Regions from separate parts of the Homo sapiens genome. Here regions 2, 3 and 4 are each linked to region 1. Evidence: fine-mapped expression QTL. A gene starts in region 1. Each other region holds a variant in brackets. All regions are shown on one strand. Distances are between the middles of the regions. Region 1 holds the start of CACNA2D2 (calcium voltage-gated channel auxiliary subunit alpha2delta 2). Region 2 overlaps CACNA2D2 (calcium voltage-gated channel auxiliary subunit alpha2delta 2). Region 3 overlaps CACNA2D2 (calcium voltage-gated channel auxiliary subunit alpha2delta 2). Region 4 overlaps CACNA2D2 (calcium voltage-gated channel auxiliary subunit alpha2delta 2).

What was found. PIP is the estimated chance that this variant, and not a neighbour inherited with it, causes the effect.
Region 2: its variant is the best candidate, but not a certain one, in a credible set for the expression of CACNA2D2 in cerebellum (GTEx, PIP 0.78).
Region 3: its variant is the best candidate, but not a certain one, in a credible set for the expression of CACNA2D2 in whole blood (TOPMed, PIP 0.83).
Region 4: its variant is the best candidate, but not a certain one, in a credible set for the expression of CACNA2D2 in CD4 T cells (BLUEPRINT, PIP 0.68).

The regions. Positions count from the first base shown.
Region 1 is chr3:50,502,606-50,505,211 of GRCh38, reverse strand. It overlaps CACNA2D2 (calcium voltage-gated channel auxiliary subunit alpha2delta 2), which reads left to right and starts at 1,578. Exons shown (of 38, transcript NM_006030.4): 1 at 1,578-1,994. The coding sequence starts at 1,789. RefSeq lists enhancers at 450-958, 959-1,467.
Region 2 is chr3:50,405,639-50,408,244 of GRCh38, reverse strand. The region is part of intron 3 of CACNA2D2 (calcium voltage-gated channel auxiliary subunit alpha2delta 2); the gene reads left to right. Among named protein-coding and RNA genes, the nearest start is that of TMEM115, 47 kb to the right of the region's middle. The variant ATGG/G (reference allele first, on the strand shown) is at 1,629.
Region 3 is chr3:50,449,533-50,452,138 of GRCh38, reverse strand. All of the region lies in intron 2 of CACNA2D2 (calcium voltage-gated channel auxiliary subunit alpha2delta 2), which reads left to right. Among named protein-coding and RNA genes, the nearest start is that of CACNA2D2, 53 kb to the left of the region's middle. The variant AG/G (reference allele first, on the strand shown) is at 1,502.
Region 4 is chr3:50,411,680-50,414,285 of GRCh38, reverse strand. All of the region lies in intron 3 of CACNA2D2 (calcium voltage-gated channel auxiliary subunit alpha2delta 2), which reads left to right. Among named protein-coding and RNA genes, the nearest start is that of TMEM115, 53 kb to the right of the region's middle. RefSeq lists an enhancer at 1,875-2,374. The variant A/G (reference allele first, on the strand shown) is at 1,413.

The DNA.
Region 1 (2,606 bases):
TGTCCAGAGGTGGCAGGGGGGCAACTGGCTCAGTGAGGACCCTGCTTGTCCCCCCAAAGAGCTGGACTATCGTCTCCCATAGTCCATCAGGTCCCACCTGTCCACCAGGCCCCTGGCCCCTGCGTTGCCTTCCTCTGATACTTTTTTTGGGGTCTCATGGTTTGGGATCTGCTGGCAAACCTGTCTGGCCCCTGAAGGCTCATTCAGGTCAAGGGAGGAGGACACTTCAAGAAATGAAGGAAACTGTTCCCTGTCAAGCCCTGGTTTGCTGGGATTGGAGAAGCCAAGGCAGGACTAGGCAGCAAGGGAAGGCTGTCCTAGGCCCTATTTCCAGCCCCTACCCCTACCCTTTTCAGTCCAGGGGCTACTATTCCCTTTCAACTGCAAGCCCTCCTTGGGCTGACTTGTGAGTGGGTGATAGGAGAGCCACTGATACCATGAGGTGGGGCATCTGGACATTTCCGAACCATCCTGCCCAGCTGGTTACTATCCCTCATTCCTCGTGATAGGCCAGGTCTGTGGGCAGTTATTGCTGAGGGGGTCCTGCCCTGTGTCAAGTTGGTGGGGAGCATTCTCTCATCCTATCTGCACCAGAGGCAGAGCTGGGTTCCAGGGTAACTTCAGTAGAATCCTAGGGATGGTCTCCCCTCATTGTGAATGCTTCAGTTTACCAAGAGATTCTCCCCATTCTCACTTCATCCTGGAAATGGGAGTGGGCACCCACACAAGCATTCACAAGCGAGGACACTGAGGCTCTGAAAGGGCCACAAGCTGTGGAGTCAAGGTTGACACCAGCCCCAGTCTTCTGCCCACAGCAGGGAAGAGCCAGGGGCCTCCAGGACAGAAAGGACTGGGTTGTGCAGAGATGAGCTTCCTGGCTCTGGAAGAATCTAAACAGAGGCTGTGCAAACTCCGGGAACTGGGGCTTGGGACAGGCCTGCACACAGTGCCTGTTCAGCCCAGGGAAGCGAAGCGAGTGGCTGCAGAGGGCTGCATCCTGCCGTCCCCAGCCCCCCACAACCGTACAGCCGTGCCCAGGTTTCCGCTTAGGGAACCAGGAGGTCCAGGCCCTTTCTGCCAGCAGCCGGGCGTGCAAGCCCCCGACAGAGAGAAATCTTAAAGATAGCTAGAGCCACGGGGGCTGTAAGTTCAGCATGCCTCCTTTTCTGGTCTCCGCTGAAGCTGTCACTCCACCATTAAACCTGTGACTCTAGGCCTTAAGCCTGTTGAAGGTCGAGCCCCCAAAAGGGTCACATATGCTCCTGCCTTGGGCCGCGGGGCCCGGGACTCTTCCCGCGGGTGGGGTGGGGAGGAGCGGCAGGGTCTGAGGTGTGGGGGCGGGGGCGCACCCGGGGCGCTCGGGTAGCAGCTGGGGCGCAGGACGCCCGAGCCAGTAGGGCAGGATTCGGGCTGCGCGGGGACGAGAGGCGCGCGGGCACGGGTGGGCGCGTGGCCGCGGCGGGGGCGCGCGGGGGCGGGCCAGCCCGGGAAGAGAGAGGGAGGGAGGGAGAGAAGAGGGCGGTGCCGGCAGGTTGGCGGCGGCTGCTATTTGAGCGCAGGTCCCGGGCCGGGCGCTCAGAGCGCTTGGAGCCAGCGCTGCAGGGAGATAGCAGCGCGCAGCCCGCAGAGGCGCTGCGGCCCGTGCAGCCCCGGAGGCCCCTCGCGGAGAAGGCGGCGGCGGAGGAGAGGCCGAGTTACCGCCCGCCGCCCGCGCCCCCCCAACCCCGCCGCCGCCGCCGCCGCCGCCACTGCCCCCCCTCCCCGCGGCGCCGCATCTTGAATGGAAACATGGCGGTGCCGGCTCGGACCTGCGGCGCCTCTCGGCCCGGCCCAGCGCGGACTGCGCGCCCCTGGCCCGGCTGCGGCCCCCACCCTGGCCCCGGCACCCGGCGCCCGACGTCCGGGCCCCCGCGCCCGCTGTGGCTGCTGCTGCCGCTTCTACCGCTGCTCGCCGCCCCCGGCGCCTCTGCCTACAGCTTCCCCCAGCAGCACACGTAAGTGGCCTCGGCCGGCCGCGAGACCCCGGCCGAGCCTTGCGCCCCGCTCTGCCCCCGGTCCGCGCTACTCCTTCCCTGCGCTCCGCGCCAGGGCAGAGGCGCTGGGTCCGGCTGCCCGCTGCGCCCGGGGGCGACGGCCCCAAGCCCCGAAGGCTGGCAGCCGCGGTCCCGGCGCTCTGGCTGCGTCGCGAAACTTCCCCGCGGTGCCCCTGCTTCCCCCAAATCCCCCGAATGAGGCAAGGCAAGATCTTCAAGCCCCGGGAGGAGTTGGGGGGGGGCGGTCCGAGCTTGTCAGCTGATTCCCCTGCCGCTGACCCGGTGAGAGGGAAACCCGGGTTGGGTGAGAGGGGCGGCCAGCGACCCCTGTCCGGCGGAGTTGGAGCCGCGCATCTGCCCCACGTTCCCTCCCTGGTGGGAATCCGGCGCTTTACAGCCAGAGGTGAGGGACATCTCCACACCTGCCTTCAAGGGCCTTTTCCTTTAGTGGGGAGCTGTATGCTGATGATGCGAGCACCTTCTTGCTGTGGCCAGTGCCACAGAGGCAGTGTCCCCTGTTCTTGGCCCCCCTCCACCTGAGGAGAGAGTACCCTGGAGAGCCCAGTTGGGAGG
Region 2 (2,606 bases), 97 kb after region 1:
GCCTTGCTGCCCAGGGACACAGGGAGTTGTCAGAGCCCATCCCTGGCATGGACAAAGCTGGATTCAGTTTGAGCTCTGCCATTTGATCATTGTGTGGTCTTGGGTGGGTGAGTCACCCTCTCTGAGCCTTGGTGACCTCGTCGGGGGAATGGGAATAATGATTGGGCTTCTTGGGGCTTTTTGGAAGCATGTGTGTGAAGCAAGGTGCAGATAATGAAATGAGGTCCTGTGGAAGAGGCTGGGCCATGTTCATAAGCACAAACACCTACCGCACCAATCCCTGAGTCCAGGGAGGCCCAGGAGAATCGAAGGCCTAAATCAGCTCCCCTGGCCTCCACTGCCCTCCTTCCTACCCCCACATCTTTGCCCTCTGGGCATTACTTCCCTTATCCCCTTCATCTGACCTTGCCCTTCAAGTTTTGCCTGGTGCTCCCTTTCCCAAAGCCCACCTGGCTTAGCCTAACCATACTCCTCTCCCATAGGGTTTATGTGCCCTTTGAGACAGCCTTGGATGCTCACTGTTCTCCTCTCATGTCTGCCTTCATCCTCACAGTCTTATGAGGCTGGGACTAGTAGAAGCCCCGTGTTAGGGAGGAGGTTATCAGGATTCAGAGAATGGTATCAGTTCTGTGCATTACACATGCAGCTCCTGGCTCTGCCCCATGGGGTACTGTGGCTGCTGGTCACTGTCTGCCCAGTCCCAGGTCCTACTAGAACCAGGAGAGTAAGCTAAGCCCCAGTCTCTTCAGGGGCCCTGGTAGAGTGGACAAGCACCCATTCCACCCCCTGGCCTTGAGGGCTTTCCTCCTGAAGCCCTCATGATCGCCAGGAACAGGGTCAGAGCAGGGGTCAGAGCCCACGAGTGGCAGGCCTAGGAAGTCTAATTTGGCCAGCACCATGGTTCCATCTGAGCATGTGATGCAAAAGCCACAAACAGGCCTTAAACAGGAGAGAGATCTGGCCCTGACCTGTGATGCCTCAGTACAGGTCCAGGCTCTGTCCCTAATGGTACAGTGGCCTGACAGTCCTTCCAGGCCTCAGCTCCCCCTTTGTATAGGGGGGCCAGTGGGCCCCTGACCTCGTTGTCTTCACCTTGAAGGGATGATCATCAAGGCAGACCCTGCCTGTGGTGTGTTTAGTAAGAGTGCCCAGGGCCAGTTCTCCATGTCCAAGGTCACAGATACCTAGATCAAGCACCTAGGTCAAGGTACCTAGATACAAGCACCAATATCCAGGTTGATTATGAGCTCTCTGGTCACTGAGTCATTTGTTTACAGGTTCCCCAACCCTCTGATGATGCTGGAGGGTGATGGACAGAGAAAGGTGAAGAATGAGTTGTCTCTGTCTCTTCATCAGACTCTTCTCAGGGATACAGAGGTGATGGTGCAGGTAGCAGTGAGCACAGTGGTAGTGGTGATTACCAGGAGACATGAGCACTAGCAGAGGTGACCACAGTGGGGTGATGGTCGTAGTGGTGACAGTGATGGTAAAGGTGGTGATGGAAGTGATGTTGGCAGTAGAGTTGATGGTGGTAGATGAAGATGGTGATGATGGAAGTGATGACTATGGTGATGGGGATGAAGGTAGTGATGGTGGAGCTGATGGTGATGGGAGTAACACTGATGATG[ATGG/G]AGTAATATTGGCAATGGTGATGGGGAGGATGTTGGCAGTGAACATGGGGACATTGGTGCTGGTTAAGTGGGGGGAACAACAGTGATGATGGGGATGATGGTGAATGGAGTAGCATTCTGGTGGTGCAGGGATAATATTGATGGTGGGTGATGGGGGTGATAGGGCTGATGGGGGGCTCCCTGTGGAGTGTACCTCTGAGGGGCAGTCCTCCAGGCAGCCCTGTCCCACTCGTGGGCTTTGCCCTTGCTGGAGGCAGGACACAGTGGGGCTTGCTTGGTGCTTTTTTTCTTTTAACCTCCAGTGAGCACAGCCTTCTGGGTAATGAGATGCAAATTGACAGAAAAGACAATGAGCCAGCCTGCGGCCAGTGGGGCAGCTTTTAGAGTCAGGCTGATTGCCTCTGTGCCAATTTGCATGGCATTAGCTGTGCATGTCTTCTCCAATGGGTTCGTGTATTTCATTAGCGGTCACCTGGATGGCTGCATCTGACAAAGGGCAATGACCTGTGATCCCAGACCAGGGGGCAGGGGCAGAGCCACTCTGACTCTGACCTGAATAGGGCTCCAGGATGTGGCTACAAGAAGTCTGAATCTGTGGGGAAGGGCAATGGATAGGGGGTAGAGATTGGAGAGTTCTCATGATCGCCAGGAACAGGGTCAGAGCAGGGGTCAGAGTGCATGAGTGGCAGGCCTAGGAAGTCTGGTTTGGCTAGCACCATGGTTCCATCTGAGCATGTGATGCAAAAGCTACAAACAGGCCTTAAACAGGAGAGAGATCTGGCCCTGGCCTGGGATGCCTCAGTACAGGTCCAAGCTCTGTCCCTAATGGTACAGTGGCCTGACAGTCCCTCCAGGCCTCAGTTCCCCCTTTGTATGGGGGGGCCAGTGGGCCCCTGACCTTGTTGTCTTCACCTTGAAGGGATGATTGTCAAGGCAGGCCCTGCCTGTGGTGTGTTTAGTAAGAGTGCCCAGGGC
Region 3 (2,606 bases), 53 kb after region 1:
ACTCCACCTCTGTGACCACAGGCAGTGGAGCCACATCTGCTCGGGGTACAGCCTGGGGAGGGACTCGGATGAGAGGAGTCAGCAGGCAACACCCTTGGCAGTGAGGGGATGAGGGCCTCGTGCCGAAGGGGTAATCTGGGTGATGCAGCCCAGCATCCACATCATGAGACTTGTGCAGCTTGGACCCAGGTTCTGGTTATGCCTCTTGCCAGCGCTGAGGCCTCGGGTGAGTCACAAGAACTCTCTGAACCCAGTATCCCACCTGCAAAATGGACCATTGCCACGCCTCCACCTCCTGGGGTTGGTTAGGAGTGGGGTCTGAGGTGGGCTCTGAGACACAGTGTGAGCTTGAAGGGTGCACCTGTGGGACAGGGCCAGGTTCCAGTCACCATCCAGGTGGGAACTAGGGGGCCTCTCAGCAGGCTCCCCATCCTCTCACTGGACAGGCCCCTGGCAGCCAGGTTTGAGGAAATGGGAGACATGGGCTAAGTCTGTACCATCGATAAAACCCATGGAAGTTGTCCAAGCACTTGGTCAAGGGGCCAGGGATGAAAATAGTGGAGGGGCATGCAGAGGGTATCTGCTCAGCCTGCTCAGTGGGTTAATTAGCGTGGATGGAGGTAGGCTGGGTTCAGGGGCCTGAACTTCAGGATGACTGGTAGTGTTCAACAAAGTGTCAGGCAGCCTGGGGAGGGGCCTTAAAACAGCCCCTGGGCCGTGCGTGTTGACTCATGCCTGTAATCCCAGCACTTTGGGAGGCCGAGGTGGGCAGATCACCTGAGGTCAGGAGTTCAAGACCAGCCTGGCCAATATGGTGAAACCCATCTTTACTAAAAATACAAAAAATTAGCTGGGCATGGTGGCGCACACCTGTAATCCCAGGTACTCGGGAGGCTGAGGCAGGGGAATCGCTTGAACCCAGGGGGCAGAGGTTGCAATGAGCCGAGATCGCGCCATTGCACTCCAGCCTGGGCAACAAAAGTGAAACTCCGTCTCAAAAAAAAACAGCCCCTGGTGGGAGGGATAAAAGTGATGATGGCAGAGGCAGGGTGGCTGTCCATGGAGGGGGCACTAAGGGCCATTGGGGTGGATGAGGAGCCCCTACAGAGGTCATGGACTGGTCACTTTTGAGGCCTCTGTAGGCACAGTGGTTTTGTACACACCACAAATGAGTCCTCATTTCCAAGGGCCCCATGTAGGCGGGGAGACAGCTCAGAGGCAGGTCCCATGTCCAGGACTGGCACAGGGTCAGAGCCCCTGGGTCTTGTTGGCTAAGGACACCCGTGACATCGGCCAGTGTGGCTGGTGCGGTGGGGTGTGACGTCGGCGGGCGTCTTGCGGATGTGACTGTGGGCAGGGAGGGGAGGCCTGCCGATGGGAAGGGAAGGCTCTGAGTCAGGCATGCGCGCAGCAGGCCTGCCTTTTACAAACGATCATCAGCCTCAGTGTTCCAACAGCCTCTTTCACTCTGTAAAAGCCTTTTCTTTGGAAAAATAAAAGA[AG/G]ATTGGAGGCAAGTACAATATTTGGCTGTGGCGGCTGCTAATTTGGCGCTGAATGTCACCTCCGCCTTTCTCTTCTCTGATGCCAAGTGCTCCTTTCCTGGCTCTGGTGGGCGAGAGCAGGGTGATGGGGGTGCAGGGCGGGCTCCAGAGCCTCTTAAGATTCGAGATTCATTTCCTTAAACACACATTGTCTCACTCCAATTTCACGTCCGAGCAGTTCTGGCGAGGAATTAGCAGCTCCTGGGAGAGAGTGGCGGGTTCTGTTTACACGGGGCGGGGGCAGGGTAGGGGAGGCGGTGCGGGGGTAGGTGGGGCTTGGGGCCCATTTGCACAGGAAGCCCACACAGGAACTGGGTCAGGGACTGCCTCACCTGACCCGAGGGCCCTCAAAGGGAGCCAGGCCGATCCGCTGTCAAAAGAATGTGTGAATCCTGCCCCATTTTAGATGTCCTGTGTGCATGGAAGGTGGGGCTGTATAGTGATTTTGGGGGCAAATCAAGAATATTGGGCTTTCAGGTTGGCCTAAGTCTCCACTGAGAGGACTGGTTGAGACCTGGGGGCCACCTTTAGCTTGCCCCCTTCTGTGGCTTGGGGCTCACAAACTCTGGAGGCTGCAGTTTGCTTTGAGTCAGGCTCCATGGACCCCTCCTCACATGGAGCCTCACCTCCCACTATGTCCCCTCCACAGCCCTTGTGAGCTTGGGTGGTGACAGTCCTGTCATTGTGTGGGAGAAGCAGCTCCACTTCATGGGTGAAGCCCCAGAACCCAGCCCTAGGTCTCTCTCCCACCTACTCAGTCCCTAGGGCCCGGGCTGAATGCCTGTGTCTCTGATGGGGAGTGTGGTGGGCAGTCCTGGGAGTACAGGCTCCCCCCGCCCCAGGCCACCCTCTCTTCATGGCCTCAAGGTCATTCTGAGTGTGGTGTGGCGGAGGCATCACAGGGCCACGCTTTAAGACCCTTCTTAATGGTGTCCTTTCAGGCTGACACTATTTTCATCCCTGGCCTTGATTTGGGCCTTCTTGGCTGGGCTTGTTTTTGTATGGCTTCTGAGGCTGGGTCTGCCCTTTTATGCCCTTTCTGCCTTCCCCATGCCTAAAATCCAC
Region 4 (2,606 bases), 91 kb after region 1:
CTTGGCCACGCTTGCACGGTGCGGGTATGTGGCTCGGTGGCTCTCTAACCTTGGGCTCTGTGTGGGCCTGTGGGGGTTGGGCATGACTGTGTGCTGTTTTTGCGGGTCCAGAGCTGCCTGGCGTGACTGCATGCATCTGTGAATGAGATGTCTGTAGCTGTGCTGCATGGGCCTCAGAGGTATGGTTCTATCTAACTCATTTCTGTCCCTGCACTGCAAGGTAAAGGAGGCTTTGGAAGACAGATGGCCAGAGGGCACTAGACATCAGAAGGAATGGGCCAAGACTGGCTCAGCTACTTTAGGGATGTCCCAGGTTTCAAGGGGGCTGCATGGCAAACTGACTAGGGGGGTGGGTTTCATGGGGGAAATGGGGCCCTGGCAACCGAAACCCTGGCTTCTGCTTCATGCAGCTGAGGAGCCTTTTATTTATTTATTTTTTGAGACGGAGTCTCAATCTGTCACCCAAGTTAGAATGCAGTGGCACGGTCTCGGCTCACTGCAACCTCTGCCTCCCAAAGTCAAGTGACTCTCCTGCCTCATCCTCCCAAGTAACTGGGATTACAGGCGTGCGTCACCACACCCGGCTAATTTATGTATTTTTAGTAGAGTTGGGGTTTCGCCATGTTGGCCAGTCTGGTCTCGAACTCCTGGCCTCAAGTGATCCACCCACCTCAGCCTCCCAAAGTGCTGGGATTACAGGGGTGAGCCACCATGCTCAGCCAGCCTAGGGACCTCAACCTCACTTGGGGCAACTTACAACGGGGAAGCATCCCACCCTCCCAGCAGAGGCCTCAAGAGTCCCGCAGTGCTTGGTCCAGAGGCCTCCTGACTCCACACAGCCATGGCCCAATTCCAGTTAATGGTCTCTGACCCAGGGCTGAGGGTCAGGGGTTGGAGAGAGTTGGTAGAAGAGGCAACAGTTCCCCCTGCAGTATTCTCTGAAAACCACCCCCACTGAGGAACACCCTCACTTCTGCCCTATTCTTACCCCCATCTCTCCTTCCTGAGCCCTGAGACAAGGCACCAGATACCCTGACTGCCCCCAGTCCTGGCCAGCTCAGGATTCAGGCCTCTCCCTTCCCCCTCCTCATGCTCCACCACCACCCCCCTACCCCAACCAGCTCCGCTTCCTAGGTTTAACACAGAGGTGGCAGCGGCAGCAGCAGCTGGGTGGGATTTTATAACCCTAATTCACACTGATCCCCTGGGGCCCTAGCTCTAGACTCCTCATGCAGCCTGAGACCAGCAGAGCACAAGGTGGGGAGGGTCCACCCTCGTGCCAGGTGAGGGAAGATGGAGACTCGGCCTCTCCCTGTCCCAAGTCCTGGGCCCTGGCAGTCACCCTAATAGAGGGCACCGGGAGACCAGGGAGGGGGTGCCCAGCACCCCCCCAGGCTGAGATGGTGCCAGAC[A/G]TCTCTGACCATGAGTCCCTGACAACCAGGCCCTCTCCCCTCCAGATAAAACTCCACGGTGACATCCTTCCATTAAATAGGGCATGTTCAGAAAAGAAAATTGCTACTGTTTTCCCCTTTTACTTCACTGTCATCAAAAATTGATCCCATATTGCATCCTTATTTCAAAGAACGAGCTAAAAAAATAAAATAGAAATTCCCACTCCTCAGAGCAGCAGCTGCATCAAGCCTCCCCCACCCCTATCCTCTCCCTCCCCACCCCCTGCAAAAAAAAGAAAAGAAAAACATGGCCAATGAGGGAAGGCGCCTGCTGGCCGCCTAGGGCTGTTGAGTGCCCATGGCTTTGGGATGCACGAGACCTGGGAGCAAGGAGGGGCTCAGCACGTGACTGTGCAGGCAGAAGGGGATTTCGATCTGGTGAAATGTGGTAGAAAATGGGGTAATTGGGGGAGGTTAATTTGGATCTAAATGGAGCGATTCGTTATCTCAATAAGAAATGTCTCGTTTTCCAGGGAGACGGCTGCGCCTGCCAGATGCTGGCCTGCCCACCATTGGGGTGGTGGCTCAGAGCAGGGCCCACAGCCAGCCTAGCCTCACAGGGCAACCCACCCTGCCCAGATGTGGGGGTTGTGGGCAGAGATAGCTTAATTTGGTTGATTCCCCAACTCATTTGGCAAAGTATTAATTAGCTCTTCTCAAAAGCACATCCAGTAAAATTGCAGAATATGAGTAACAATGACGGGGCAGAGGCCGAGGTGAGCAGCCTGCAGACTAGGCACTTGCTCTAGCTGAGCCCATGGGCTCACCCTGAGCCTCCTGGAAGTCAAGGGAGACCTACCCAGTGTTTTGTGTTCTAACCAGAGGAGAAGCCCAGCGTGGCTTGCCATGGGAAGGTGTTTGGGGGTTGTGGGGGGATTTCCAGGATGGTGCCCCTCAGCCCATGCACCTTTGCTAGGAGCAGGGTCTGGGAGCTGGCACCTGGACTGTAGTGTGACCCTGGGCATGTTGCTCCTCCCCAAGCCTCAGAGCCCCATTCGTTCTTTCCCAGGGGCCACAGGCAGAGGCTGCTGGCAGTGCTGGGAGTCCTGGTCACACAGGTGTGACCATCTCAGGCTGCAGCTTGGAAGGCCTGGGCTCAGCAGCTGAACAGACTTAGGTGTGGGCTCCAGCTTCTCCTTCTGCCAGGTTTGTGGA